4 linked regions of the Homo sapiens genome follow. The protein of the gene in region 1 interacts with the protein of each later gene in a pairwise test. Each region holds a gene or a part of one and is shown on either strand. Other genes may lie near its edges.

Evidence for each region.
Region 2: the proteins of CGRRF1 (region 1) and FAXDC2 interact in binary tests that used the Homo sapiens proteins (3 or more experiments, as listed by UniProt).
Region 3: the proteins of CGRRF1 (region 1) and CD72 interact in binary tests that used the Homo sapiens proteins (3 or more experiments, as listed by UniProt).
Region 4: the proteins of CGRRF1 (region 1) and PGAP2 interact in binary tests that used the Homo sapiens proteins (3 or more experiments, as listed by UniProt).

Annotation. Positions count from the first base shown.
Region 1 is NC_000014.9:54,505,870-54,512,929, forward strand, and holds the start of CGRRF1 (cell growth regulator with RING finger domain protein 1), read left to right. Parts: upstream 1-4,036; 5' UTR 4,037-4,090; coding exon 4,091-4,194; intron 4,195-7,060. UniProt on the Homo sapiens protein: Able to inhibit growth in several cell lines.
Region 2 is NC_000005.10:154,826,592-154,833,615, reverse strand, and holds part of FAXDC2 (fatty acid hydroxylase domain-containing protein 2), read left to right. Parts: intron 1-2,693; coding exon 2,694-2,815; intron 2,816-4,075; exon of another isoform or gene 4,076-4,158; intron 4,159-7,024. UniProt on the Homo sapiens protein: Promotes megakaryocyte differentiation by enhancing ERK phosphorylation and up-regulating RUNX1 expression.
Region 3 is NC_000009.12:35,615,399-35,622,810, reverse strand, and holds the start of CD72 (B-cell differentiation antigen CD72), read left to right. Parts: upstream 1-4,397; 5' UTR 4,398-4,507; coding exon 4,508-4,589; intron 4,590-4,689; coding exon 4,690-4,797; intron 4,798-5,563; coding exon 5,564-5,635; intron 5,636-6,121; coding exon 6,122-6,211; intron 6,212-6,424; coding exon of another isoform or gene 6,425-6,465; exon of another isoform or gene 6,466-6,532; coding exon 6,533-6,868; intron 6,869-7,412. UniProt on the Homo sapiens protein: Co-receptor of B cell receptor (BCR) that plays both positive and negative roles on B-cell functions. Recognizes the Sm/ribonucleoprotein (RNP) self-antigen ligand, and coligation of CD72 and BCR inhibits BCR signaling.
Region 4 is NC_000011.10:3,811,560-3,818,583, forward strand, and holds part of PGAP2 (acyltransferase PGAP2), read left to right. Parts: intron 1-3,625; exon of another isoform or gene 3,626-4,527; coding exon of another isoform or gene 4,528-4,695; intron 4,696-5,745; coding exon of another isoform or gene 5,746-5,793; coding exon 5,794-5,976; intron 5,977-7,024.

The sequences.
Region 1 (7,060 bases):
CTTGGGTTGAAGGATTGATTAATGGTCACCTGTAACACCAATAGCCCCTACCTTTAGTGAGCACATCTGCATGTTCCAAGTTTAATATTGCTCCTTTTAGTTTCTTATAAGTATAGAGGCACTAAAAAAGAATGGAATGTTCCTTCTCCTGCTGAAGACTCCTACTTTGTAACAGAGTAGTTTCCAATAAACTTGCTTATTTCACTGTTCTCTCTGACTCGCCTCAAAATCTTTCCTACACGAGATCCAAGAACCTGCTCTTAGGGTCTGCATCGGGACCATCTTTTCCAGCGATGTTTCTACATAAAGAGTAAGTAATCCCAGCACTTTGAGAGGCAGTGGCAGGAGAATCACTTGAGCTCAGAATGTTGAGGCTGCAGTGAGCTGTGATCATGCCACTGTATTCCAGCCTGGGTGAAAGAGCAAGACCCTGTCTCAAAAATTAAAATAAAATAAAGACAGTTTTGTCCCCACATCCCTCCAGGCTGGAATCTCAGGGAAGCAGGTGGTTGTAGCGGAAGCACCCAAATAGGTGGGGTATTGGGGCTGGGTGCAGTGGCTCACGCCTGTAATCCCAGCACTTTGGGAGGCCAAGGCGGGCAGATCACTGAGGTCAGTAGTTTAAGACTAGCCTGGTCAATGTGGTGAAACCCCGTTTCTACTAAAAATACAAAAATTAGCCAGGCATGATGGCGGGTGCCTGTAGTCCCAGCTACTCGGGAGGCTGAGGCAGGAGAATCTCTTGAACCCAGAAGGTGGAGGTTGCAGTGAGCCAAGATTGCTCCACTGCACGCCAGCCTGGGCGACAGAATGAGACTCTGTCTCCAAAAAAAAAAAAAAAAAAAAATTAAAAAACAAATAGGTGGGGTACTGGAGAAACTGAAGAGATCGGAGCTGGTAGTCCACTTTCCCTCTAGGAAAGGAGGAGAGGCCTTACATTTGGCTTGCTTCACACCACCTTCACCATGGTGCTAGAGCAATGGCATTCAGTGGCAGAGGTAGCCTGATTGGGCATCCTGAGATAACTGCTGCTTCTCAGTAGCCTGCATGTGACATATGTGAGAATCTACATGTTTACATATTGCCCCAGTAAGTAACATTGGAGATGGTAAGCAGTCTGGTGAGCTAGTGGAGCTAAGGAGCCATAGCTTATGAGGGTTTTACAACCAGAGGTAAATGGCTGGAACCCTGGATCTCCGCAGTGAGGGCTGGCCTGGTACCACAAAAAGCCAGATGAAACCCGCTTCCCCTTAGTGAGGACCTACAGGTGTCATGCAGAGCTGAGGTCTCATTTTCCTGACCTCCACCATCAGGTCATATGAACACCTTGTACAATCAGATACTGTCTTGGGAAGAATCAAGAGAAGAGAGAGGAGAGACTAAACATTTTCCTAAAGGAGACCAGCTTCCTAAAAGGTGCAATTAAACTTGAAGAGTCTAAGATACTTTTTTTTTTTTTTTTTTTTTGCCGGAATCTTATTCTGTCGCCCAGGCTGGAGTGCAGTGACACAATTTCAGCCCACTGCAACCTCCACCTCCCGGGTTCAAGCAATTCTCCTGCCTCAGCCTCCTGAGTAGCTGGGATTACAGGTGCCCGCCATCATGCTGGGCTAATTTTTGTATTTTTAGTAGAGATGGGGTTTTGCCATGTTGGCCAGGCTGGTCTCAAACTCCTGACCTCAGTTATCTGCCCACCTCAGCCTCTCAAAGTGCTGGGATTACAGACGTGAGCCACCATGCCCGGCCTAAGATACTTTTTATTGATAAATTTAAGCTCACATTGTCTTCTCTTTTTACCCCGTCTAATAGTAGGGTGGGGCTTCTTTCTTTTTCTTCTTTTTTGAGACAGGTTCTTGCTTTGCTTTTTTTTTTTTTTTTTTTGAGACAGCGTCTTGCTGTGTCACCCAGGCTGGAGTGTAGCGGCACAATCGTGGCTCACTGCAGCCTCAACCTCCCTTGCTCAAGCAATCCTTCTGCCTCGCCCAGTTAATTTTTTAATTTTTTGTAGAGACAGGGTCCCACTATGTCGCTGACGCTGGTCTCAATTCCTGGGCTCAAGCCATCTCCCTGCCTTGGTCTCCCAAAGTGCTGGCCTTGGTCTTCCAAAGTGCTGGCATTACAGGCATGAGCCACCATGCTGGGTCTAGGGTGGGGTTTCAAGCTAAACTAGATCAGTTATAGATAATAAAGAACAGTCATTCTTCCTGTTCATCTGAGAGTCAAACTTTTTTTTAAAAAACTCTAATATAGATACTTTGTGCTTCCAAGTAATCTCATGGAGAAAAGCTTATTTCATTTATTTATTAATTCAGTAATATGACTACCCGACATATACTAGGTACCGGTGGCACAAACATCAATTATGTGTCATTCCTGTGCTCAGAGAGCTGGGTTCCTAGCAGGCTAAATACACTAGTGAGCAGGTGCTCACACCAGAAATAAGAGGGCTCCCATACAGTTACATACTGGGTGCTTTGGGAGAGGCATCTCCCCAAGGGTTTGGAAGCATCCAGGAAGGCTTGCTGGAGAAGGGAGCCTTTCAGATTGGCCAATATTTTTGTTAAGTGACAATATCAAATGATGGCAAAACTGTGGATGAAAAACTGGGAATACAAATTGGTACATTTCTGGAGAGCAGTGTTTTTACAAAATCTTTAAAATGTACATTTTTTAAAACCATAGTTCCACCTCTAGTAATTTATCCTAAGGAAATACTTTAGCTGTAGGGATGTTCATTGCAGTGTTATTTATAGCAATGAAAAATTCTCCAACAGTTGAGGGCTGATTAAAGTATATATTTTCACAAATCAGATATATAGTAATTAAAAATTGTGTTGTAGAAGCAAGCTTCTCAAACAGTGCTGCTCCAGAGACTACGTGCTCATTTGCCAAGGAATATGTGAGGCCATAGGACAAACTTAGTTCATCTTTCTCAACACGAATTTTACTGGTGATTTAGGAGTGTGACAGAGGCTACTAGTTAACTATCCCAATGTCCATTCTCTTTCCTCCTCAGTAACAAAACTCTTGATTTGTACCAGGGTGTGTTGCTGCTCACGAATAATAAGACTACATATCCCCATTCTCTGATGTGGCTAGATGTGGCTTTAGGAGTAAATGCAAACCAACGAGGTGTCAATGAACTGTTATGAAAGACTTTCAGGGAGGCCACCTTGATGGAGCTGACTCACAGGGTTGAGACAAGGGAGTGACCATTTAGCTACTTTCAGTAATTTTTAAAAAGCTTCTGTGTGATTTAAAAAGTTTTTTAAAAATTATTCTTAAAGTGGAAACAAATACAGTTTCAAATGTTTGGCTAATTCTAATTTGAGGAGTACAAGAAGAGGAGAAAAGGAGGGGGATGTGGGAGGAAGCGGATGCTTTATTTCTAAGAGAATCTTGGATAAGCAATGCTGATTTTCCTCTATGATTAAGTCCAATCTGAAAAGGCTGACAAGTCTCGTATAAATTGCTTGTGGTAGAGACTCCTTTTTTTGTGTTTTCACTGTGCTTATGGTTATTTCATTTTGTAGAATCCAAGATGCCCGCCCTCCTCCTCCTCCTCCTCCACCCTCTCCCAAATTTGCCTAAGATATAATAGGCAGGGTTTCAGGATTTAGAAACGATGCACGTAGATTTCAGACTGCGCCTCTCTCTGACATCAGAAAACCTACATTGCCTAAGGCTGGCACAGAGTTGGCCCCAAAGTCTACTTAGAATTTGCCGGCGGAACAGCAATGACCACTGGGCCACAGCGCTTAAGACGCCCGCTGGGTACCAATCCTGGGAGTCGGGGGCGGTGCGAGTCGGGCCCCCCCCATCCCAGGTCTGCGTAGCCAATAGCTCGGGACGGGAGCGGGAGGGGCGTGGCGTGTCCGGCAGGGGGCGCCGTGATTGGCACGCCAGCTCCCGCTGTCCGCGAGGCTGCCCTAAAGTCTAGCTCATGAGAACCCCAGGCAAGTGCGGACCTACAAAGTTTGTCCGCTCCGGGGCACTGTAGTGGCTTTTACCCTGGCCGGGCGGGCGGGGCTCAGCCGGGCTGGGCTGGGCTCCGCGGCTGGAGCCGGGCTCTACCCAGAGCAAGACCCTGATGGCTGCGGTGTTTCTGGTAACGCTTTATGAATACTCGCCGCTTTTCTACATCGCGGTGGTCTTTACCTGCTTCATCGTGACCACCGGCCTGGTATTGGGATGGTAAGTGTCCCAGGGGTGAGAGACGAAGGGGCGGATACCGCCAGAGTGGGGTCGCGACGAGCAGCAGGGGGCACCGGAGCCGGAGGGCCGCGGGCCGGAGGACGTCGGGGATTCGGTGTCCCCGGGTGCCTAGAACTCCGACTTTCTCTGGGAGGAAAACAAGGTGGACGCTGCACCTGCGTCACTGCCCTGCATCACCGTTTGGTCCGTGTCGCTGGGGCATCTTGGGGTGGTACCGCATTGGGGTGTTTTACTCAGCTTTGTTTCTAGGCGATAAAGCAGCCAGGAAGGGCTTGGGCTTGGGCTTGGTGTTGGGAGAAAGTGCTTCTCTAGTAGGCTTCTGTCCCGGATTCGGGCCTACTGTGTGTCCTGGATGAGTTAGTCACCTGTGCTACAGTGCACAGACTGGACAGTAAGCGAGGTTAACAGTTGTGATTCTGACCTGAATGGAGCCCTTAGCCTCAGATCTTTCAGAGTAACTTGTAACTGAACTGTTACCGTTTGAGAATTTAATGGTTTCTGTATACATTCCACACCTTTTGAAGTAATATTTAGTCGATAGAATTGTAAAATCATAATTTTAGAGCTGGAAGAGACCTTAGAAATATGTAACACCGAGGGTAGGACAGTTGCCTATTGGAGACAAGGAGAATGGTCTGTTAGATAACCGCTGAGCAATTCTTCTAGCCTAGAGGTTCAATTTCTCTCTTGAGGAGATGCTATTGTATCATGTTTAGACAAGCCTTGTAAATAACGAGTTGAAACCGTGTAACTAGCCCACAACAGTTTTTCTAGGCTGCAGCCTCCAAAATCCCTTTGAGATGATAATAGTTACAAAAAGATCAAACAGCAGTTCTAAGTGGATAACAGCCATGGTCTGAAGAGGTCAGAGGGGACTCTGTTGAAGAGGGACATGAGCTGGATTTTGGAGAATGAGCATTTTGAAAAATAAATGGAGTTAAATGTATATAGTAGGGAAGAAAAAGCATCTCAGAGAAGACAGCATGAGCATAGGGGCAGAGAACATGTTAGTGAATAAAGAAGGCTACGTAAAACGAGTTTTAAAATAGCCTTTGGTCACATATATGTGATTGCCTTAAAGAACACGGGCCCTTGTCGGTTTCTGAAAATATATGCCATCTTTAGGAAGTGACAAAAGTTTTAACCTGTCCACACTGCTCCTCACCCTACCAGCAATAGAGCATAGAATTCCTTGCCTTGTATGTGGGTGAGGATTGGAAATACAAATTCCTTATTTGTGGGGGTAAGATTGGAAAACAAAGACCAATCTTACACAATTGGTTATTCTTGACCCATCAGATTTTATTGCTAATGTTCATTACACAAAAGTTTGTAATTGGAATGAGGAAGGTGTTGCCCATGTGAGAAAAGCAGTCTTAACACAAGATTTTTAAATGACTATAATGTTAGTGTTATTCTCTTAATGAAGCATAATTTTCCTCCACTAAGGAAAATAGTAACTAGTTGATAATTGCCTTATGTGCTTTAATTTTTATTTTAAATAGGCCAACTAATTAGATATCTTAGATATCAATCTTTAGTATTGGGAAGAGGGTAGTCAGGAGCCTCATGTTTGTAGTGGTTAACAGACAGACTTTGGAGTCAGTCAGACATAGGTTCAAATCCTGGCTCTGCCAGCTTTAAGACTTGGTTTGAAAATTTAATAATTGCCAAATCACCCCATTTAGGTAAGACTTTTTACAAGAGTGGAAGCCCATGTAATTATAGAACGTTTGGAAGTCTGGGCTAAGCACTGCTGAGGCCACAAGACCATGTAAATCCAGTCACTTCCATCCTAATTTAGGCCTAACCAGTCATCTTGTGCCTAACCCAACCATTCTCTCCATCCGAGTTAGTTTTGCCCACGTAGATAAACTTTTTACTATGTTTATTTGCAAACTTAAGCCAAGGCCATGTATTTATTGACTAGAAATGATGAAAACTTGGACACCATCTAAATCGCATAAAAACATCTTTCTAATAGTACCAATAGTACCCCAGTCAGAAGGGTAAACTAGTTAATACGCATGTTTTTCACCCTTGTCATTGTTTTGTTTTGTTTTAACCTCCCATAATACCATCTCTACTGTTCATGTGTTTTCTGTCATGGTTTTTCCCTTGGTACTTCTCTGAGTTTTTCACTATTTGCTTCTTTCCACTGTTTGCCATGTCTGCCTGCACTGTGTGGGAGTGGAGAAAAAACAGGAGCATATGATTATTGGAATCCCAATAGCAATAGCAAAGAAGCATGCAACTGGAAATATAGTATTTTTCTTTCACCATGTGGTGGTTTCTGTGATCTCTGATAGCTTTCTGCAGGCACTGAGCACAAAGAAGCCCAAAAGTCCATTTACATCCTTTAACAGTTTCAAATAATCAGGGACCATGACTCCAGTAGCTATTCCCGGCCTCCTCTTGACCACAGTTTATTAAGCTGTTGACCTCAACTTCATACCACCCTCTGCTTTGTGAATCTAGGGCAGAACTCTAAACTACATTTCTTCTTTGCAAGCTGACTGCCCATTGGGCTTTGCCAACAAGGGAGGGAGACTGGAAAGCTGGAAGAGGATGAAGGGACTTGCTGCTTCCTGTTGATTCCTTTTCTTGTCTGTCACTTGCCACAATAGTGCCTCACTCTGGCATTAATAGTTGGTCCCACTTGTTCCAGTTTATGCTTTCCTACTCTGCTAGAATCAGCCTTATGCACTTCCTTAAAGATACCAGTATCCTTTCCTCAGATCTGAGTCCTGAGCTCCATAGAGTCTCTCCTCCACATTTCTAAACTATAGTAAATTCTCTTTATTCTCTTTTCTCTGTTCCCTTGTCCTAGGAGTGATAGCTGCTT
Region 2 (7,024 bases), on another chromosome or scaffold:
TTGGGAGGCCAAGGCAGGTGGATCACTTGAAGTCAGGGGTTCGAGACCAGCCTGGCCAATATGGCAAAATCCCTTTTTCACTAAAAACACACACACACACAAATTAGCTGGGTGTGGTGGTGCGTGCCTGTAATCTCAACTACTCAGGAGGCTGAGGCATGAGAATTGCTTGAACCTGGGAGGCAGAGGTTGCAGTGAGCCGAGATGGTGCCACTGCACTCCAGCCTGGGCAATAGGGCACGACTCTGTCTCAAAAAAAAAAAAACAAAAATTAAGATAGGCCAAGATTAGTGGCTCACACCTGTAATCCCAGCACTTTGGGAGGCTGAGGCAGGCAGATCACTTGAGGCCAGGAATTCAAGACCAGCCTGGCCAACATAGTGAAACCTGTCTCTACTAAAAGTACAAAAAATGAGCCAGGCGTGGTGGTGCGTGCCTGTAATCCCAGCTACTCAGGAGGCTGAGGCACAAGCATCGCTTGAACTCAGGAGGTGGAGGTTGCAGTGAGCTGAGATAGCACCACTGCACTCCAGCCTGGGTGACAGAGCAAGACCCTGTCTCAAAAAAAAAAAAAGAAGTATTTAAATGAAATGTTTCCCTCCCCCATTAAAAAATGATGTCATAGTCTAGAAGGGAAGATAAAAAGTGTCAGTTGCTATAAAGCAAAATGCACCTGAGGATTGTTTTCAACTAGAAGGAGGACTCTGACAATGGGCTGAACATTAAATATGACAGATTTAATGGGATCTTAAGCAGTCATTGAACAATGCAGATTACCTATGTATATGGAGAAGGTGGTAGAAAAACTTTATTAGCTTGAACCTGCAATCTAAAAAAACCTCAAATATTTTATATATGTTAGGTACAATCCTGTGAAAATTACCTATTACCTTGGTGATAAGCCAATATGAGAGAGAGAAAATATTTCCAATTTTAAGTGTTAGAGCTAGAAGAAGTTTAAGATCGTCTTACGGTGTGCTTTTCATCTGTATTCCTCAGGCAGCCTTTGAAGTTCCAAGTAGGTAGACACCTTGGATGGCCCACTGGGTAACCATCAGCCTTTTTTTTCCAAAGTAAAAAATAGTTTATTTTTTCTGGGTATAAAAGTAAATATGGGCCAGGCGCAGTGGCTCACGCCTGTAATCCCAGCACTTTGGGAGGCCGAGGCAGGCGGATCATGAGGTCAGGAGATCGAGACCATGGTGAAACCCCGTCTCTACTAAAAATACAAAAAATTAGTCGGGCGCGGTGGCGGGCGCCAGTAGTCCCAGCTACTCAGGAGGCTGAGGCAGGAGAATGGCGTGAACCCGGGAGGCAGATCTTGCAGCGAGCTGAGCTCACGCCACTGCACTCCAGCCTGGGTGACAGAGCAAGACTCTGTCTCAAAAAAAAAAAAAAACAAAAGTAAATATGTGCTCATTGTTAAAAATAAAAATCAGGCAATTCAAATAAGCATAGAAAGTGTGAAAATCACCCACTGTCTTACCTTCAAGAAATAACCACTGTTTATATATTAGTGTGCATCTTTTATATATTGGGTATATAGTTGTACTTATGAGATACCAACTATTTTTAAATCTTTTTTTCATTGAATAGATTGTAGGTATCTTTCCATGCCTATTAATGTAGCCTTACTTAATACTCTAAGCTTCCCATTCTATTCCATTATATGGAAATACTCTAATCTGTTTAGTCCCTTCCCTACTAATGGGTATTTAGGCTGCTTAAATTTTTTTTTTAATGCTGTGACGGACATTTATGCATACAAACAGACGTGTGTCCTTTTCTTCTTTCTCCCTTTCTGTCTTGGCTCTCTGACTCTCTCACTTTATTACTTCAGTTACTGCCAAATTGCCCTCTAGAAGGTTTGTACCAATCCTACTCCCCTACAGTGCTGGCAAGTATTTTCCAAGTCCCAGCCGCCACAGTTACTTCGGTTGATGGAGCATGAAGGGTGCTGGTGGAGGGGCACAGACATGGAATTAAGCAAAGCCGAGTCCTAGCTGGGCATGGTGGCAGGTGCCGGTAGCCCCAACTATTCAGGAGGCTGAAGCAAGAGGATCACTTCGGCTTGGCAGGTCGAGGCTACAGTGAGCCATGATCACACAACTGCACTTCCAGCCTGGATGACAGAGAGAGGCTTTGTCTCAAAAAAACAAACAAACAAACAACAAAAAAAAAACAACGATGAGTTTTCCACTTATACTGACTAGATGACACCTGAAGTTCTGCTGCTCAGTTAGTAGGATGACAGGGATTAAGTTTCCTGACTGACTCCTAGCCCAGGGCTCACTGTGACCCATACCATACAGAGTACTTCCTTTGCTTCTCCTTCCTTGGCAATTCATAAAGGGTTCAGTGGGCGCAGACTCCCAAATGTCAACCTGAATTCATTTCTATTTTAGAGGGTATTATATATCTTAACATACTTTCATATGTATTTATATGAAAACCACCAACCACCTTGAAGGTTGTCCCTATTTTATGGCTAAGAAAATGGAGACACTCCTTAAATGGCCTGTCCAAGTTCCTACCCAAGACTACAGGTAACCCCTTGGTCCCAAGCCCTAAGACCTCCCTGGCAAAGAAATGTCTAGGATGAAGCCTCAGTCACCACAAAAAAGTATGTTCTGTTAGTCTATGTGCTGTGAGAACCCAAAGTCGCCCTGACTGTTTCTGTTTCCCAATCTCAGGTGCCATCCAAGTGCCTTGTCTCTTCTTCTGGAGCTTCAATGGGCTTCTATTGGTGGTTGACACAACAGGAAAACCTAACTTCATCTCTCGCTACCGAATTCAGGTCGGCAAGAATGAACCTGTAAGTGTTGTTGCAACTTCTGGTCAAAGCACAGAAAGCAAGAGCCAAAGCCACACTCTCAGAATTCTCACCACTGGCCCAGGAGAGACCTGGCCAGTGTGAGCCAAGTTATTAGCAACAAGGCTCCCCCAGTTTAGAAGGTTAAAGAGAGGAAATAATTTGCCCACAACCTCAGAGTCACTCAGCTAGTGGCCAGTCAAGACCAGTGTTCTGGTCTCTTGATTCCTGGCCCAGGCTCTGGACCTGCCTGTGGTGCCCCATGGCACTGTGGTCAGCCTGGCACTGAGAAGGCAGGCAACTCCACTTTACCCATAGGAATGGAGACAGCAATGGGTGGATGCTAGAATATGGGTAACAGCTGTTGTTATGAGAGAGGGAGACAGCTGCGAAAACAATGGATAACTCCACTGTAATAGACGGATAGTATGGATTCTGAATGTGTGGGCGGTGGCTGTCTTTTAAACAAGTTCTCCTTCCGAAATACTCAATTCGACCAATAGTGAAAGGCACCAGGGCAAATCCATGATAAGTGAGGCCCAGACCCTGCTTACAAGGAACTCTGACTTGCACAGCGCCGGGAAGTGGGTCCCACTGTTCCCTGAGTCTGGCTCGCCTTTTCCTACACAACAAGGAAGAAGTTGATTCTGAAACCCAGGTTCTTTACCCAGCTCCACCCAAACCACATCCTGGCTTCTTTCCCAGACAAGACAATCATCTTTTAGTCATCTGCCCAGGTGTCTGGGTGAACCACCTCAGCTCTCAGGTCCTTTTGCCCCAGCCCAGCACTCCAGAAAGGCAAACAGTGCTCTTGACCCACTCCTTTGAAGTGGGCCCCTTCCTGAACTGGACTGCTGGCCTGGCTTACTGTCCCCCTCACTTGGGACAACAGCTGCCAGCCAGGCTTGGGGGCTTCCTCCAGGCCCAGCTTGGCAGGACATGAATCAGAGCCTAAAGTGTCAAACCCTGTGCTTGGTCCTTGAGAACACTTCATCTGTCAACCACGGCTGTTGTAGCACCACTGACTAAATGCTCACATCTTCAACTGAGGCCAAGAACCTTCACTGTTCAGATGAGGAAACAGAGGTGTTACACGGGTAAACTATGATTCAAATGCAGGCTTTGTGACTTCAGGGCTCACATTCTTAATTGGCTCTCCAGAATATTACCTGCCGTCTGTACAACCTTGTGGTCTACACAATGACTACAGAGCTACATTGGAAGATGTCATTGCATTCTGCAGAAGCTGAGGTTCAGAAATGTCCAGTGACTAGCTCAAGATCAGATTGCTGCTAGGAAACAGAGCCAGGGCTCATCCCATCTGACACCAAGTCCAGTGTTCCTGTACCACATGCACCCTCAAGTGGGCACACAAGCAGGAAAGAACCTCACGAGGCCATTTAATCTTTGGCTGTTTCAAGGAAGGACTGGCCCCTGAACTAACACATCAGAAACAGATCCTCAAGTGGGGAGCTGAATGCTACCTGGTGTTCCTATGATCCATTCCTGCTCTGTTTACTCTCCCACTGCCTGAATGGCTAGTTCACACCTCCTCCCCTAACTGCTGGCAGAGGGAGGGGCCTTGCTTCCCATTTCACTAAGAAAATTTAAGCCTGGGCGTGGTGGTTCATGCCTGTAATCCCAGCACTTTGGGAGGCCGAGATGGGCAAATCACTTGAGCTCCGGAGTTCAAGACCAGCCTGGGCAACATGGCAAAACCCTGCCTCTACTAAAAATACAAAAATTAGCTGGGCATGGTGGCGCATGCCTGGAGGAGAATTGCTTGAACCTGGGAGGCAGAGGTTACAGTGAGCCGAGATTGCACCACTGCACTCCAGCCTGGGCGACAGAGCAAGACTCTGCCTCAAAAAAAAAAAAAAAGAAAAAAAGAAAATTTACGCAGGCTGGGGCACAGTGGCTCAGGCTTGTAATCTCAGCACTTTGGGAGGCAGAGACAGGAGGATCGCTTGATGCTAGGAGTTCAAGACCAGCCTGGGCAACATAGTGAGATCCCTGTCTCTACAAAAAAAATTATTTTAATTAGCCGGGCACAGTGGCGTGTGTCTGTAGTCTCAGCTAGTCAGGAGGTCAAGGCAGGAGGATCACTTGAACCTAGGAGTTCAAGGCTGAAGCGAGCCATGGTTGTGCTATTGCACTCCAGCCTGGGAGACAGAGTGAGACACTGTCTCTAGGGGGAAAAAAAAAACAAAAAACTAAAGCAAGCAGAAGAGTTTTATAGATGCACACCACATTGGGCAGTGACCAGTACCTGCACCCACATGCTCTGCCTGCCCACCTGACACCACAGGTGAACTCTCCTTGCTCCTGTCTGTGGGTGATTCCTCCCCTATCCATGTACTACATCCAGGAAATGGCTGCTGCAATTCTCTCTTTGCTTTCTTGTATCTTCTTTTCCTTCTCTTTCTCTCATTATTCCTCTCTAGATTATTACAAACGTGGTAAATTTTTTCCATCTAAAAAACAAAACAAAACAAAACAAAACAAAAAAAACCCCACCAAGTGTGGTTGCTCACTACTGTAATCCCAAACTTTGGGAGGCTGAGCCAGAAGAATCGCTTGAGCCCAGGAGTTTGAGATCAGCCTGGGTGACAGAGTGAGATCCTGACTCAAAAAGAAAAATAAATAAATAAAACAGGCCAGGTGTGGTGGCTCACGCCTGTAATCCCAGACTTTGGCAGTCTGAGGCAGGAGGATCACTTGAGCCCAGGAGTTCGAGACCAGCCCAAGCGACAGAACGAGATCCCATCTCTACAAAAAATTTTTTAACTAGGCAAGTGAGGTGGCGTTTGCCTGTAGTCCCAGCTACTTGGGAAGCTGAGACGGGAGGATTGCTTGAGCCCAGGAGGTCGAGGTTACAGTGAGCTATGATCATACCACTACACTCTAGCCTGAGTGACAGAGTGAGACACTGACTCAAAAAGAAGGAAAAAAAACAGGCCAGGTGGAGTAGTTCACACCTGTAATCCTACCACTTTGTAAGGCCAAGGCAGGAGGAATGCCTAAGCTCAGGAGTTTGAGACCAGTCTGGGCAACATGACAAAACACCCCACCCAACACTGTCTCTACAAAAAATACAAAAATTAGCTGGGTGTGATGGTGCATGCCTGTAGTCCTAGCTACTTGGGAGGCTGAGGTGGGAGGACTGCTTGAGCCCAGGAGGTTGAGGCTGCAGTAAGCTACGGTTAGGTGTAATGGCCTCACCTAACATGTCCTCTCACAACAGGCTGGCGAAACCTGGCCTCGCGATGGGATGGAAGTAAACAAAGAGTGCACTCCAGCCTGGGTGACAGAGTGAGATCCTCTCTCACAAAAAAACAGACATACACACACACACACACACACACACACACACACACACACAAAATAACAGAAAAAACAACTCTTAACTAGCAAAGTTCTTTGAGAGAGTTATCTTTATAGTTTCCAATTCCTGTCTGTCCACTCTTATTTGGGTTTTGTTGGTTTTTTTTTTTTTTTGAGACAGTCTCCCTCTGTCACCCAGGCTGGAGTGCAGTGGCACTGCGATCTTGGCTCACCGTAACCTCCACTTCCTGGGTTCAAGCAATTCTCCTGCCTCAGCCTTCCAAGTAGCTGGGATTACAGGCGTGTGCCATCACGCCTGGGTAATTTTTGTATTTTCAGTAGAGATGGGGTTTCACCATGTTGGCCAGGCTGGTCTCGAACTCCTGGCCTCAGGTGATCCACTAGCCTCGGACTCCCCAAGTGCTGGGATAAAAGGCGTGAGACACCACGCCCGGCCATCTGTCTACTCTTTTCCCCAACATCCTGTAATTATGAAAAATGTTAAAAATACATACAGAAGGTTGAAAAATAATGTAAGAATTATGCATTTACATATCACTTAGATTCACCAATTTTAAATATTTTTGCTTTATATATAAAAATATAAATATATATGCATCTATACATTTTTCCTATTTGAAAGTGAGTTTGAAACATCATAAAACTTGACCCCTAAATCCTTTAGCCTGCATCTCTCCTAAAGTAATCACAAAAGCATTGTCTCATTTTCTCTATAAACCTCCTCCAAATTAGGTGTCACACCTAGAAAAAGGCTCTACCAACATTTCTTTTGGTAAGTTCACCAATGATATGGTTTCATTAGAGCACCAGAGACATTTCCACAGCTGCTGACTCCCTCAGCCTTGAAATATTTTTTTCACTTGGCTT
Region 3 (7,412 bases), on another chromosome or scaffold:
ATTATTATTATTATTATTTTTTTTGAGACAGAGTCTCGCTCTGTCACCCAGGCTGGAGTGCAGTGGCACCACCTTGGCTCACTGCAACCTCTGCCTCCCGGGTTTAAGCGATTCTTTTGCTTCAGCCTCCTGGGTAGCTGGGACTACAGGTGTGCGCCGCCATGCCCGGCTAATTTTTGTATTATTAGTAGAGACGGGGTTTCACCATATTGGCCAGGCTGGTCTCGAAATTCTGACCTTGTGATCTGTGCACCTTGGCTTCCCAAGGGATAACAGGCGTGAGCCATCGTGCCTGGCCTGCTGTTATTATTTTTATGACATTTCATTCTGTGGTTTGGAGCCATCATTTTGCCTTGTTGCAAGGCTTGAATCTTGAGTTGGCCTTTTGATGTATTTGCTTTTCAGCTCTGTGCCATTAAGCACAGAGAACGTGCTTTCTGTGTCACCATTTGAGGCAGGACCAAGGAGAGGCCTGGGGCAAGTCACCGAAGACCTATCTGTACTCTTTGGCTTCAGTGATCAAAGAAATCCAAGTCTCCCTCATGGTGCAATCAGGTGGCCCATTTTTCTCCCTCCTGACTCTGAAGCCTTTGTGACAGATTTTAAAGAGGCGTTTGTAAAGTCCACACCTAGTGTGTCTCCAGCAATCATACTCTTGATTGAGGTCAGACTATCTTGTATTTTACAGATGGAAAACTGTCACTTGCCCAAAGTCACATACTGTGGCAAGGCTGGTCTCTTTAACCAGAGTCTCCCTATTCTTTCTATTACATCATGCTTCCTCCACAGTTCACGAAACTCTTGCTGCTCTAATAAATTACACACTTGGTGGCTTAAACAATACAAATTTATTGTCTTACAGTTGTGGAGATCAGGTCGACACAGGTCTCACTGGGCTAAAGTCAAGGTGTCTGCAGGGCTGGTTCCTTTCTGGATGCTGAAGGGGAAAATCTGCTTCCTTGCCTTTTCCAGCTCTCAGAGGCTTCTTGCATTCCTTGGCTCAAGGTCCTCTTCCTGCACCTTCAAAATCAGGACCTATGGGTTGAGTGTTTCTCCTGTGGCGTCTCTCTGGCCCTCCTTCCCTCACCGAATCTCTTTCTTCCCATGATGGGAAAGGTTCTCCCTTTCAAGGACTCATGTGATCAGAGTGTGCCTACCAAGATAAAACAGGATAATCTCTCTATCTAAAGGACCTTGATTAACATAGCCACATCTACATTTTGTCAGGTAAAGTGACATAGTCACAGGTTCTGGGGATTCGGGTGTGAACATTTTTGGGAGGCCATTATTCTGGCTACCACACCCTGTCAGTAAACTAGGGCTTCCCGGAGGCCAGTGGGTTAAAGTAATGAAGACAGATATAGCCTGACTTTCAGAGTCTTAGGAGATGCTCCCGATGTCCTGACATAGACTGTATCAATGACACAAAGTTGATCAGGTGAGCCCCCTTCCACATGGCAAATTCTATCTGATGCCCTCATGGTTGGGCCCCCTCCTCTTGTCAACCGTAAACACCCATTCCCTGTAATGAGTAGTGGGGAGGCCAGGAGAGGGCAAAACATGGGTGTTAGTGTCTGCCCTCCAGGCTCTCAGATGATGATAGTATGGTTCTGGAAAAGCTGAAATGTACAGCACTGACCCCTCACCTCTTAAAAGTTCCCTGATATTTGGGCAGTAGAGGTACAGCTTGGAGTTACAGGTATCTTTTCTGATGTCCAGCCTCTAAATGTAATGTGAATGTCAAAACTGTAAAGACCCCAAGTGACACACGTGGGGAAGGGGAAGGATCCTACTCTCTTACCCTGTTCACAAAGGAAGGCTACAAGCTGGTCTAAGACAGAAGCGAATGCGGCCTGTGATGAAAAGATATGTAACCATCACCAAAAGAGCTAAAGAGGAGAAAAATATAGAACAAGCCTGGTTAAGACATTCAAGATATTGCGGTGTGCAGTTCCATCTGGGGATCCCCTTCTTTTTTTTATTTTTTTTTATTTTTGGAGACAGAGTCTCACTCTGTGGCCCAGGATGGGCACAATCTCGGCTCACTGCAACCTCTGCCTCCCGGGTTCAAGCAATTCTCAGCCTCCCTAGTAGCTGGAATTACAGGCACATGCCACCATTCTCAGCTAATTTTGTATTTTTAATACAGATGGGATTTCACCATGTTTGCCAGGCTAGTCTCAAATTCCTGACCTCAGGTGATCCGCCCACCTCAGCCTCCCAAAGTGCTGGGATTACAGGTGTGAGCCACCATGCCGGCCAGGAGATCCCCTTCTTAAGCCTCTCTACAGGTCAAGTTAGGCAGCAAGCCCATGTATTCCATTTTTTTTTTTTTTTTTGGAGATGGAGCTTTGCTCTTGTTGCCTAGGCTGGAGTGCAATGGTGTGATCTTGGCTCACTGCAACCTCCACCTCCTGGGTTCAAGCGATTCTCCTGCCTCAGCCTCCTGAGTAGCTGGGACTACAGGTTCGAGCCACCACACCAGGCTAATTTTTTTGTATTTTGTAGTAGAGACGGGGTTTCACTATGTTGGCCACAGACACCTTTTTGAGTGCAGACTAGAAGCTTGGTTTTGGCATTTTACCTGGCATCTACATCATGTTCACCTGTGTATTGGATCTGAAAACTGGGACATTCTACAGTTTGTGGAACTCCTGCAAATGTTCCTGCAATTGATTTACTCACACACTGCCCACACCCACCCCCTGTACACCACAGGTTCAAGTATTTGACTCTTCCCACCCCACCCACCCCTGCCACCAGCTGCTCTATACCCTCCCACTCACTCTCAGGGCCCCTGAGGTCCCCAGGGAGTCACCACCACATACCACTCTCTGTATCTGGGGGAAGGTCTAGGTTGTTGGAAACTTTAATCAAGCAAGGACAGTTAACAGCTGCAGAGGCACCTTAGGAAACAGTGAGCTTCAAAAAGGAAATACTTGTAGGATCTCTTGTGATGACCTTTGACGACTTTTCTGAAAATGACCCGTCATTCTCTGCCATGGAAAATAACAGTGATCACAGGCAGCCTTCAGCCCACAGAAGGCTTCCTCCTCCAGGCAGGCTCTGACATAGCCGCTCACCTCACAGATGCCCTAACAGACTGCAAAGTCCTGGGAACATGCATATCCATGCACACACATGCACACGTGCCTCTCTACAAGTACATTTTTGAGGTCACAGCTTTGCCTCAGTGGCCACTTCCTCTAGGGCTGGCTGGGCGGAGCTATTGGCAGAGCTCTAGGGTCCCTGGCAGTGTCCTGCCACACACCACCAATCATCCGAGCTGTTGGCATGTGGTGAGGACCTTTTCCCCCTTCCTTTTTCCTCCCCACAGCTGCAGGAGGGGGATTCTGCGGGGCGGATGTCACTTTGCTAGGGGCGGGTTCTTCCCACCCCCACACTACATCTTGTTCTAGCTCCTTCCTATCCCGGATGTAGGCCATTTTGGGGTTCCTAGTAGGGGTCACATCCCGGTAAAAGAACATTAGGGAGCACCTTTGGGCACCCCTGCTCAGCAGCCCCCTTTCCCCCAACTGGTTCCCTCTCTCCTCCATCAGCCAGGCCCCCACCACCTATGAGGGCCTCGCGGTCCCTGGGTCCTCCGCCACAAATGCCCCCTTTTTCCTTGGGGCTGGGTGGGAAGGGACAGCTTTGGGACTTTTTAAAGAAAGAACTTTGCTAGGAAAGTAAGAGACGAACCAAAACCAAACCAAGAAAATGTCAAGACCTCCGCTGGTCCGGAATCTGCGCTCGGCCTCTGGCTCTGTTCTGCTCCTCTGCCTTGACTTCACCTAGGAAGCTGCAGCCTTCTTAAGCCCTCTGCAACTCCCTTGCTCACCTGCTCCCTGGCTCCCCATGAGGGTGCATGGGGGGCAGTGCTGCCACTTGCCTTTCCAGAGGTGCTGCAGCCATGGCTCTTCCTTACCTTCACCTCTGGCCCAGGCCTGTTCCTGAACCCCCAGTTACTGGAACCCCCAGGATGATGAGAAGCGAGGGATGCAAACCAGGAACCCCCAGTCTCATGGGGAGAACGGAGCCTCACCCTGGAGCTGGGGAGATCGTCTGGGTCAGTGCAGCTCCAGCTACACATCATAAGCCCCAGTGGACAAGGCAGCCAGGAGGAGGGTGGGGCAGATCAGGGCAGATAACCAGAAGGACCGAGTTTGGGGCCCAGCATGGCCCATATGGGTTTAAGATGCATGGAGAGGAAGCACAGGGAGGACATGGGGACAGGCCCATCCCCTACCCCTGTGTTCTGGACCTCAGCGTCCCCTCCGTGGCCCCTCTGGCCCTGGCCCAGGGATGCCTTCTGCTTCATTGAGCCCATCTGTTTGAGACTTGCTAACACCTTCCTCTTTTGTGACTGGAAGTCACAGGGCCAATTGCTAAGCCGTGCAGTCACAGAGGGAACACAGAGCCTAGTTGTAAACGGACAGAGACGAGAGGGGCAAGGGAGGACAGTGGATGACAGGGAAGACGAGTGGGGGCAGAGCTGCTCAGGACCATGGCTGAGGCCATCACCTATGCAGATCTGAGGTTTGTGAAGGCTCCCCTGAAGAAGAGCATCTCCAGCCGGTTAGGACAGGGTAAGGGGGATGAGGCCTCCCCTTGATCCTGCATCCCCACTTCCCGCCCCACAGATCCCATTCCCAAATCCCACCTTGGTCCCTTTTCTCTTCTCTCTAGACCCAGGGGCTGATGATGATGGGGAAATCACCTACGAGAATGTTCAAGTGCCCGCAGTCCTAGGGGTGCCCTCAAGCTTGGCTTCTTCTGTACTAGGGGACAAAGCAGGTCTGGAGAGCCTGGGGGATGTGTGTTTGTTGGGGGGCTGTGTCTTGAGCTGGGGAGTCCACAATGTTTTTGTTGTTGTTCTTGAGACAGGGTCTTGTTCTGTCACTCAGGCTGGAGTGCAGTGGTGTGATCATGGCTCACTGCAGCCTCGACCTCCTGGGCTCAAGTGATCCTCCTGCCCTGGCCTCCCAAAGTGTTGGGATTGCAGGCGTGCGCCCCCATGCCATGGCCCTCAGTATTCTTGAGAGCACAATACCCTGGGGAAAGGAGGAGGGCGGTTCTTAGGAAACAGAAGAATAGGAACAGGATAAATGGGAGCCAGGGGAGGAAGAAAGATTCCTCCCGCAAGGTGGAGACCCCTTTCGGGGAGATAAGGGCTGCGGAGGGATAGGGCAGCCCTGTGGGGGATGAGTTCTAATGGGAAACGGGGAGCCATGGGAGGGAAAAGAGGTGATGGGAGATGGATGAGAGCAAAGGGGGAGAGGGTTTGGAGCCGACAGATAAGGGGCCTCTGAGGAAACGATAAAGGGAGAACTAGGAGAGATGAGGGGGTCCCGGGAAAAGATACAGTGAGACCCAGGAGGAAGCCGAGAGAGTCCCGGGCAGAGGAGGAACTCAGGAGAGTGACACTGTGTCCCAGAGCAGCTCTAGCAGGCAACGTAGGGCAGACTGGAGTTTCCCAGTGGCGAGGGCGAAGCGGGTGCGCAGGAGGAGAAGGGGCAACACTCGGGGCTTCCGGTCTCACACTGGATGCTCCCCTCGACAGCGGTCAAGTCGGAGCAGCCAACTGCGTCCTGGAGAGCCGTGACGTCACCAGCTGTCGGGCGGATTCTCCCCTGTGAGTGTGCCTGTGCGGGGCAGCCGCGGGGCCAAGTGCTCGCGCCTGTCCCGGCTGCGGATGGCGCTGGGCCCCGCGGGGTGCAGCTCCTTCCGGGATAAACCCGGGCGCAGTCCTTCCGACGCCCGGGCTGCCGTGCCACATTCACCTTCATCCGGTGCGCCTGAATCCGACGTGCACCGCCCCCCTGCGGATGGTCCCAATTCACCTACCTGCCCCCCTTCCCCTCTCTCCGTCTGATATTTCCTTCCCCTTCTCCCAGGTAACGCCCCCGAGTCCCCACCAGCACTGATTCTGGAACACCCTCTCCCCTACCTGCGAAACACCCCGCTACCCGACAGAAACCACCATGCTTGCCCCCTCAGCTCTGCACCGCCCTCCTCTTAGGGATGCCTTCCCCAGGGGTCTCCCCCACGGACCTGTCCCTTCCTCTCTACATTCTTTACGGGGGCTGACTGCCCTCATCCATCCCACTGTCCCCCTAAGGCCGCACAACCTGCCTGCGATACCTCCTGCTCGGCCTGCTCCTCACCTGCCTGCTGTTAGGAGTGACCGCCATCTGCCTGGGAGTGCGCTGTGAGTAAGGCTGTCCCTACTTCCCACTTACACCGAACGACTTTCGTCCCGACTCTCGCCCCAAAGCTGATCTTCCTCAGCAGGGATCATAGTCACTACCACCACCTCCTTAGCTTTGGGTTTGGTTTCCAGCCAGGGCTGTTGTCTTCCTGAATTGTCCTCACCTAATCCAGTACCTCCTTACGCTTTAGTCAGTCAAATCTTGTATTTCAGCCTGTGATGCAAAAAGTTGCAAGAAGCAGAAAAAGGGCTGATGCTGCAGTCTCAGGGCACTAGGGCAGGGCTGGAGAAGACATCCACCAAATCTCTGTGGCCAAACAGATCTGCAGGTGTCTCAGCAGCTCCAGCAGACGAACAGGGTTCTGGAAGTCACTAACAGCAGCCTGAGGCAGCAGCTCCGCCTCAAGATAACGCAGCTGGGACAGAGTGCAGAGGATCTGCAGGGGTCCAGGAGAGAGCTGGCGCAGAGTCAGGAAGCACTACAGGTGGAACAGAGGGCTCATCAGGCGGCCGAAGGGCAGCTACAGGCCTGCCAGGCAGACAGACAGAAGACGAAGGAGACCTTGCAAAGTGAGGAGCAACAGAGGAGGGCCTTGGAGCAGAAGCTGAGCAACATGGAGAACAGACTGAAGCCCTTCTTCACATGCGGCTCAGCAGGTATCCGCTCTGGGGAGAGGAGAGAAGGGAGGGATGGATTGGAGCAAGGAGATAGTAGTGGCAGGAGTCTATCACCCAGGGGCCTGTGAGGTGTTCAGGAAAGGGGCAGTGAACCAGAGTGGTGGCTGACATGAGCTGTTCAGCCTTGGCCAACAGAGAGAAGGACCAAGCTGCATACTAGATTTAGGGGGACCCACCCAGCTCCAAGGCTCATCCTGTAGGGGAGAGGAGGATGGCAGCCAGCAGTCCAAATCACACTGTCCAAGGTTTCTTCCGGTTGATATCAGTGACAAGGATCTGGGAACGCCCCCAAATTTGGATGTGAACTTGGCGGTTTGCACATCTTTCTAAAGACAGGGACCTCATTTTTAATTAATTTTCGTTATAGCTGAGATCTCCCCAAAGGGTAAGACTTACTGGCTGACATGGAGTGCAACCTGGTGGTGGGGCAAGGCAGTGAGGCGCTCAGCACTCACAGTGAGGTGGAGCTGGGAGTTGTGGTGTAGGGAACTAGGATGGGGTGTCCATTCATTTTGAAAGCAGG
Region 4 (7,024 bases), on another chromosome or scaffold:
CAAATTGAAATCTCAAGGGTTAGTCTCCCTCTGCCTTCTGTGAGGTTCTGGAGGCTGGAGTCACTGAAGTGTAATATAGAGTCAGTAAATGAATTACAAGTATAACAGAGTTTGACACATGTCCCACCCCATTTACTTTGATATCCTAGAGAAAGTGGTCTTACATCTTTCTTCCTGGCCCCGCGCCCCATATCCCTGTCCAGAGGGCAGACCTAGAGCCAAATCCTTACTTCATAGAAGAGCAGATTCTGGAACCCCAGGGTTTCTGGGAAGTGGAGAGAGAACAGGATTGGGCTAGAGGGTATTTTGGGCCTCTTAATGTAGCACTATGGGCTTGTGCCTGTCTCTGTAGGAATGTGACTCAGTATATGTGTGTGTGATTGTGAGGGTCATGACTGTATATAATGGGTTTGAGTGGGTCGTGTGTGAGAGAGACTATATCTGTGCCTGTCTGTATGGAGATCTGATTATGTACGTGTGTATGTGTCCTGGGGTGAGTCCCGTGGCCTCTAAGATTCCATAGATGTCTGTGTACCCTCTGGACAGGGATATGGGGTGCGGGGCCAGGAAGAAAGATGTAAGACCACTTTCTCTAGGATATCAAAGTAAGTGGGGTGGGACATATGTCAAACTCTGTTATACTTGTAATTCATTTACTGACTCTATATTACCTGAGACAGAGACCCAGCCTCAGTTTCCTCATGTCTGAAATAGAATTGATTAGCTGGGCATGGGGGTATGCACCTGTAGTCCTAGCTCCTCAGGAGCCTGAGGTGGGAGGATTGCTTGAGCCTAGAAGTCTGAGGCTGGAGTGAGCTATGGTTTTCTCACTGTACTTCAGCCTGATGACATAGTGAGACCCCCATTTCTAAAAAATAAAATAGGGTTGATAATTCCTGTCCTGCTCCTTCCCAGGGCTAGTGTAGAGCTCTAGGTAGAAGAAGGATAGGAAGGTAGTTTAGGGAGGATGATGAAATGTGAGGAGCAGAAGGAGGAGGAGGAAGAGACTGTCAGGTTGGAAGGCAGGGCAGGAAATGAACTTAACCTAGGGGCTTTAGGTGGAGAAGAGGCAGATTCTGCGCATGGACCATTGGGGTCCCTCAGAGTTCTGAAGGCCCCAGCCAGCTGGATCCCCACTTCATGTAAAGAGCATCTGCTTCAGAGAAATGGCTAGGATTAGCAGTGGGGTCTAGCTGTGAGTATGGGGTGGAGCCCCACTTCTTTACTTCATGTGACTGGAGTTTCCTCTCCTCCTGATTTGTCAGTGGGTAGACATGGGTGTTGAGGTATGGACACCCAATCTGATGAGACCTGGGGCTGGGAGCTATTAGAAAGAACTGGACGAAAAGGGCGAACAGGCGATCTGAAGGGAAGGAGTACCCTTTTGTGACCTAGTACATGACCTAGTACCTATTATCTCAGATAATGCATCAGATATTCCTGTTACGCTAGCCACTCCTGATCATCCCGCAAAACCCTGCCCCGCTAGCTCTAAAATGTCTTCCCTATCCTCCTTGGGGCTAATGTAATCACTCCCTCCTCTGGGTGCCCACAGTTCCCTGTGTTATCTATCACATCATATTTGTGTCTGTCTTCCCAACCAGATGGGGATCTCCTTGAAGGCAGGCACTGCATTTGAGTGAGAAAGTATTTGGGTTTTTTTATTTGTTTTAGAGGCAGGGTCTCATTTCCGTCACCCAGGCCAGAGTGTAGTGGCATGATCATAGCTCACTGCAGCCTCAAACTCCTGGGATCAAGCAGTCTTCCTAACCTCAGACTCCTGAGTAGTTAGGACTACAGATGTGAGCCACTACACCCAGCTTAATTAAAAAAAAAATTGTGGAGATGGGGTCTCGCCATGTTGCCTAGGCTGGAGTGCAGTGGCATGATCATAGCTCACTGCAGCCTCAACCACCAGGGCACAAGTAATCCTCCTGCCTCAGCCTCCTGAGTAGCTAGGACAATAGGTATGCACAACCATGCCCAGCTAATTTTTGTGTATGTGTGTGGAGACGGGGTCTCACACTGTTGCCCAGGCTGGTCTTGAACTCCTGACCTCAAGTGATCCTCCCACCTCGACTCCCAAAGCACTGGGATTATAGGCGTGAGCCACTGTGCCTGGCCAGAAAGTGTTGGTTGAATAAATGATTAAGACTCCCTAGCCCAGTGCCCTGGGGAAAGGAAGGCATGGTATAAGTCAATCATAGTCCAAGCAAAATTATAATATTTGTATAGTATATGGAGTTAAACAGACTAGGCTGTTTGCTCTGCCCCTTATGGCTGACCCCAAGGGCTGATGGCATCAATACCCTATTAGCTAGGTTATTGCATACCTTGCATACCTATTACCTGTTCTGGGCATACCAGTTAGGGAATTAAGATATAGATAGTTGCTGGAGTACTTGGTCCCTCTGGAGCAGTACTAGGTCTGTGACCCTGAGGGTATGTTGTCCCCACTGCCTGAGCCTACGGTGTTGGTTCCACCTTGGAATTTTTATATTTGCTCTGAATTTCCCACTCAGAGTATCCCAGAAATGGCCAGCCCTAGGAATAAAAGAAGCAAGCTAGTCCATCATATCTGTAATTGATTACTTTGCCTCTGCTCGCATATCCCCAGTGATGGGGAGCTTCCTTCCTCCCCAGGTAGCCTGTTCTAAGGAAGCTTAATAACTAATAATTAGCCTTTTTCTTTTATTTTCTTTCTTTATTTTTATTTAGATGTAGTCTCACTCTGTCGCCTAGGCTGGAGTGCAGTGTTGTGATCTCAGCTCACTGCAACCTCCGCCTCTTGGGTTCAAGCAATTCTCCTGCCTCAGCCTCCTGAGTAGCTGGGATTACAGGTGCCCGCCACCACACCTGGCTAATTTTTGTATTTTTGGTATTGACGGGGTTTCGTCATGTTGGCCAGGCTCGTCTCGAACTCCTGACCTCAGGTGATCCACCTGCCTTGGCCTCCCAAAGTGCTAGGATTAAAGGCGTGAGCCACCATGCCCAGCCTCTTTTTTTTTTCTTTCTTCTTCTTTTTTTTCTTTTAACAGAGATAGTTTCTCACTATGTTGCCCAGGCTGGTCTTCAACTCCTGAGCTCAAGTGATCCTCCTGCCTCAGCCTTCCAGAGTGCTAGGATTACAGGCTTGAGCCACTGTGCCTAGCCCAAGCTTTTTCTTTCCTTCTTTCCTTCTTTCCTTCTTTTCTTTCTTTCTTTCTTTCTTTCTTTCTTTCTTTCTTTCTTTCTTTCTTTCTTTCTTTCTTTCTCTTTCTTTCTTTTTTTCTTTTTTTCCTTCTTTCTTTCCTTCTTTCTTTCTTTTCTTTCTTTTCTTCCTTTCCTTCCCTTTCCCTTTCCCTTGCCCTTTCCCTTTCCCTTTCCCTTTCCTTTCCTTTCTTTTCTTTTCTTTTTGAGGCAGGGTCTTGCTCTGTTGCCCAGGCTGGAGTGCAGTGGCACAATCTTGGCTCACTGCGACCTCTGCCTCCTGGGTTCAAGCCATTCTTATGCCTCAGCCTCCCGAGTAGCTGAGATTACAGGCATGCACCACCGTGCCTGGCTCATTTTTTGTATTTTTAGGAGAGATGGGGTTTCACTATGCTGGCCAGGCTGAAGCTTTTACTTATAGTGAGTATGTACTTACTTTCCGGTGAGTCTCTGCCTTGGCCCTGGCTCTGCTTTGCCGTAGAACTATTCTCTCCTCGTGGCTTCAGGTCAGCCCTGTAGAGACAAGAAGACAGTAATGAGGGGCCTTGAGTCTGTCTTCTTCTTTTTTTTTTTTTCTTGAGATGGAATCTCGCTTTGTCACCCAGGCTGGAGTGCAATGGCACGATCTCGGCTTACTGCAACCTCCGCCTCCCAGGTTCAAGCGATTCTCCTGTCTCAGCCTCCCGAGTAGCTGGGATTACAGGCACACCGCCACCATGACTGGCTAACTTTTTGTATTTTAGTAGTGACGGGGTTTCACTGTGTTACCCAGGCTGGTCTCGAACTCCTGACCTCAGGCAATCCAGTTCCTTCAGGCAACCTTCCAAGGAAATGGTTTCCAGGCTCTTCCCTATCCTGAATGTACCGTTGAACTTGGCCCAGTTTGTCACTGTTCTCTGCTGGGCCTTGATTTGGGTATAGAACTCCAGGTGGCCTGGGCAGTACAGGCAAAAGCAGGACTATTCATTCTTATTCCTGGCTGTTAGACCTCTGTTGAGGCAGCCTGAGCTGCTATTAGCTGTTTCTGCACAGGTACAGGCTGAACATCGATATCTCATATTCAGGCTTGTTGAGATCTCTTTTGTATCCTGCTTCTGTCATCATAGGATTTAGCCATTTCTCCAGTGAGGCCCAACAAGCCCTCTCAGTCCTGCTCTAACAAAAAACGGCCAGACCCCTTTTTGCTTTCTCTCTTTCCCTTATTGGAAACCTGCCTATGACCCTGGATACAACTCTCAGGAAGGTCCCTGCCCCCATCACTGGCAAAGAAGCTACTGCCAGCTGACCTCAGCCACTATCACTTCTTCCCTTTGCAGAGTGTTCTAGGATTTATGACATATGCTTGTTGATCCTGGGAAGGATGTGTGCCTGGGCAGGCGTGGAGAATTGGGTACTGTGGGCGGGAGGGCAGGCCCTGAGGAGCAGGGGGTGGGATCCTCCAGTCTTAGAATAGTCCCAGTCTGGCTACAACCTTCAACCCAAGACCCGGATTCTTCAGCACCGAGTGTGAGTGTTCCTTCATGAGGCCCCCACCCCATTCCTGGGTCTCCTTAGTGGAGGGAAGTATGAGTGCCGAGGGGAGATTGGGTCCTAGGCCTTTTAATATCAAGCCATCTCTGTCTGCCTCAGCTTGATCCAGAGGGAAGCCCAGCTTGAGGGGTCAAGGTGTTTGGGCAGTGGGGTTGTGAGGGGGAGTTGTCGGCCAGGAGGGAGAAGAGATTGGAAGAAGCTCAGTTCCCTGGGTCTGGGTCTGACCTGGACAGAGATCTCCTGGGTCTGGCCCAGGACAGCAGGCTCAAGCTCAGTGGAGAAGGTTTCCATGACCCTCAGATTCCCCCAAACCTTGGATTGGGTGACATTGCATCTCCTCAGAGAGGGAGGAGATGTAGGTCTGGGCTTCCACAGGGACCTGGTATTTTAGGATCAGGGTACCGCTGGCCTGAGGCTTGGATCATTCAGAGCCTGGGGGTGGAATGGCTGGCAGCCTGTGGCCCCATTGAAATAGGCTCTGGGGCACTCCCTCTGTTCCTAGTTGAACTTGGGTAAGGAACAGGAATGTGGTCAGACAGGGTCAGTGGGAGGGCTTTGGCCATTCTGAGCCAACGGTCCTTTGTTAGTTGGCCTGAAAGAAGCCATGACTTAGAACCTGAAGCTGTCAGGTGGCAAGAGGCCTTAGTCCTGGTGTTTGATCCTGGCATAGTTCTGGGCCTCAGTCTCCCCTTCTGTGAAATGGGAATAATAACCTTTCTACCTCTGACCCTTCTCCTGAGTGGCTATGAGGGTTGTGAGAGTGAGGTGGGCCACCAGAGCTCCCTGTCCAAGCCACCGGGAGCCTCTCTTCTGTAGGCTCTTCAAGAGGTGGACCTAGAGTATCACTGTGCCAGGGGGATTCCTAAGCTCTGACCCTGCCTGTCTCTGCTGCTCCTGCCCCATCTCCCTCTGATCCTTCTCCTCTGCACTGTCTTCCTTTTCCCCTTATGCCTTTTCTACCCTTTCTGCTCTGGCTTTTCCTTATACTCTGAGGAGCCATCTCTGGAAAAGGCCCCACTTTCCCAGACCCAGGTGTCCTACCAGGCCCCAAGTTGTATCCCTCGTGCTGCTTAGGCCACGCCCTGCAGGATGTTCTCTGCGGCCTCCCAGCCTTTGGACCCCGATGGGACCTTGTTCCGGCTTCGCTTCACAGCCATGGTCTGGTGGGCCATCACTTTTCCTGTGTTCGGCTTCTTCTTCTGCATCATCTGGTCCCTGGTGTTCCACTTTGAGTACACGGTGGCCACTGACTGTGGGGTGAGTGCCAGCTCCCCAGCCCCTGGGTCAGGGCCAGGTCAGGAGGTGGCAGTTAGGGTAGAATTAGATAGTGGAGAGGAAGTGGAGGATCAGAGAGAGGGAAAGGGACAAGGGGATGGGGGAAGGGTAGGTAAGTCAGAGTCAGAGATAATTCATGGGGGGAGACTCAGAGAGAATAGAATCACAGTCCTCCCTGAGTTGGAAGATGATGATAGAAATGCAAGGGAGATGACGGGCGCAGTGGCTCATACCTGTAATCTCAGCACCTCGGGAGGGCGAAGCCAGTGGATCACTCGAGTTCAGTTCGAGACCAGCCTGGGCAACATGGTGAAACCCCGTCTGTACAAAAAATGCAAAAAAATTAGCTGGGTGCCCTGGCATGCCCCTGTAGTCCCAGCTACTTGGGAGGCTAAGGCAGGAGAATTGCTTGAGGCTGGGAGGTGGACATTTCAGTGAGCTGAGTTCACACCATTATACTCCAGCCTGGGTGACAGGAGTAAAACCCTGTCTCAAAAACAAAACAAAATAAAAAAAAAAAAACAGCAGGCTGTGCACTGTGGCTCATGCCTGTAATCCCAGCACTTTGAGAGGCCGAGGTGGGAGGATCACCTGAGGTCAGGAGTTTGAGACCAGCCTGGCCAACATGGTAAAACCCTGTCTCTACTAAAAAATACAAAAAAATTAGCTGGGCATGGTGATGTGTGCCTGTAATCCCAGCTACTCAGGAGGCTTGAGGCAAGAGAATTGCTTGAACCCGGGAGGCAGAGGTTGCAGTGAGCCAAGATCGTGCCAAAAAAAAAAAAAAAAACAATAACAGTGCAAGGGAGTTGGGGGTTAGAGGGAGGTGATAGGGGAAGAGAAGGGATTGGAATGGGCAGGAGAGATCATGAGAGGAAGGAGGCAGATTGGAAAGGAAGCCAGGACTGAGGAGGTAAAATGAGGCCAGAAGATGGGAGATGTAACAAGTGGCTTTGGCCCAGACTCGGGGACTGACCTTGGAGGATCCATCCTCAGCTCTGATCTGGATCCTCAAGCTTTGTTTCTCCTA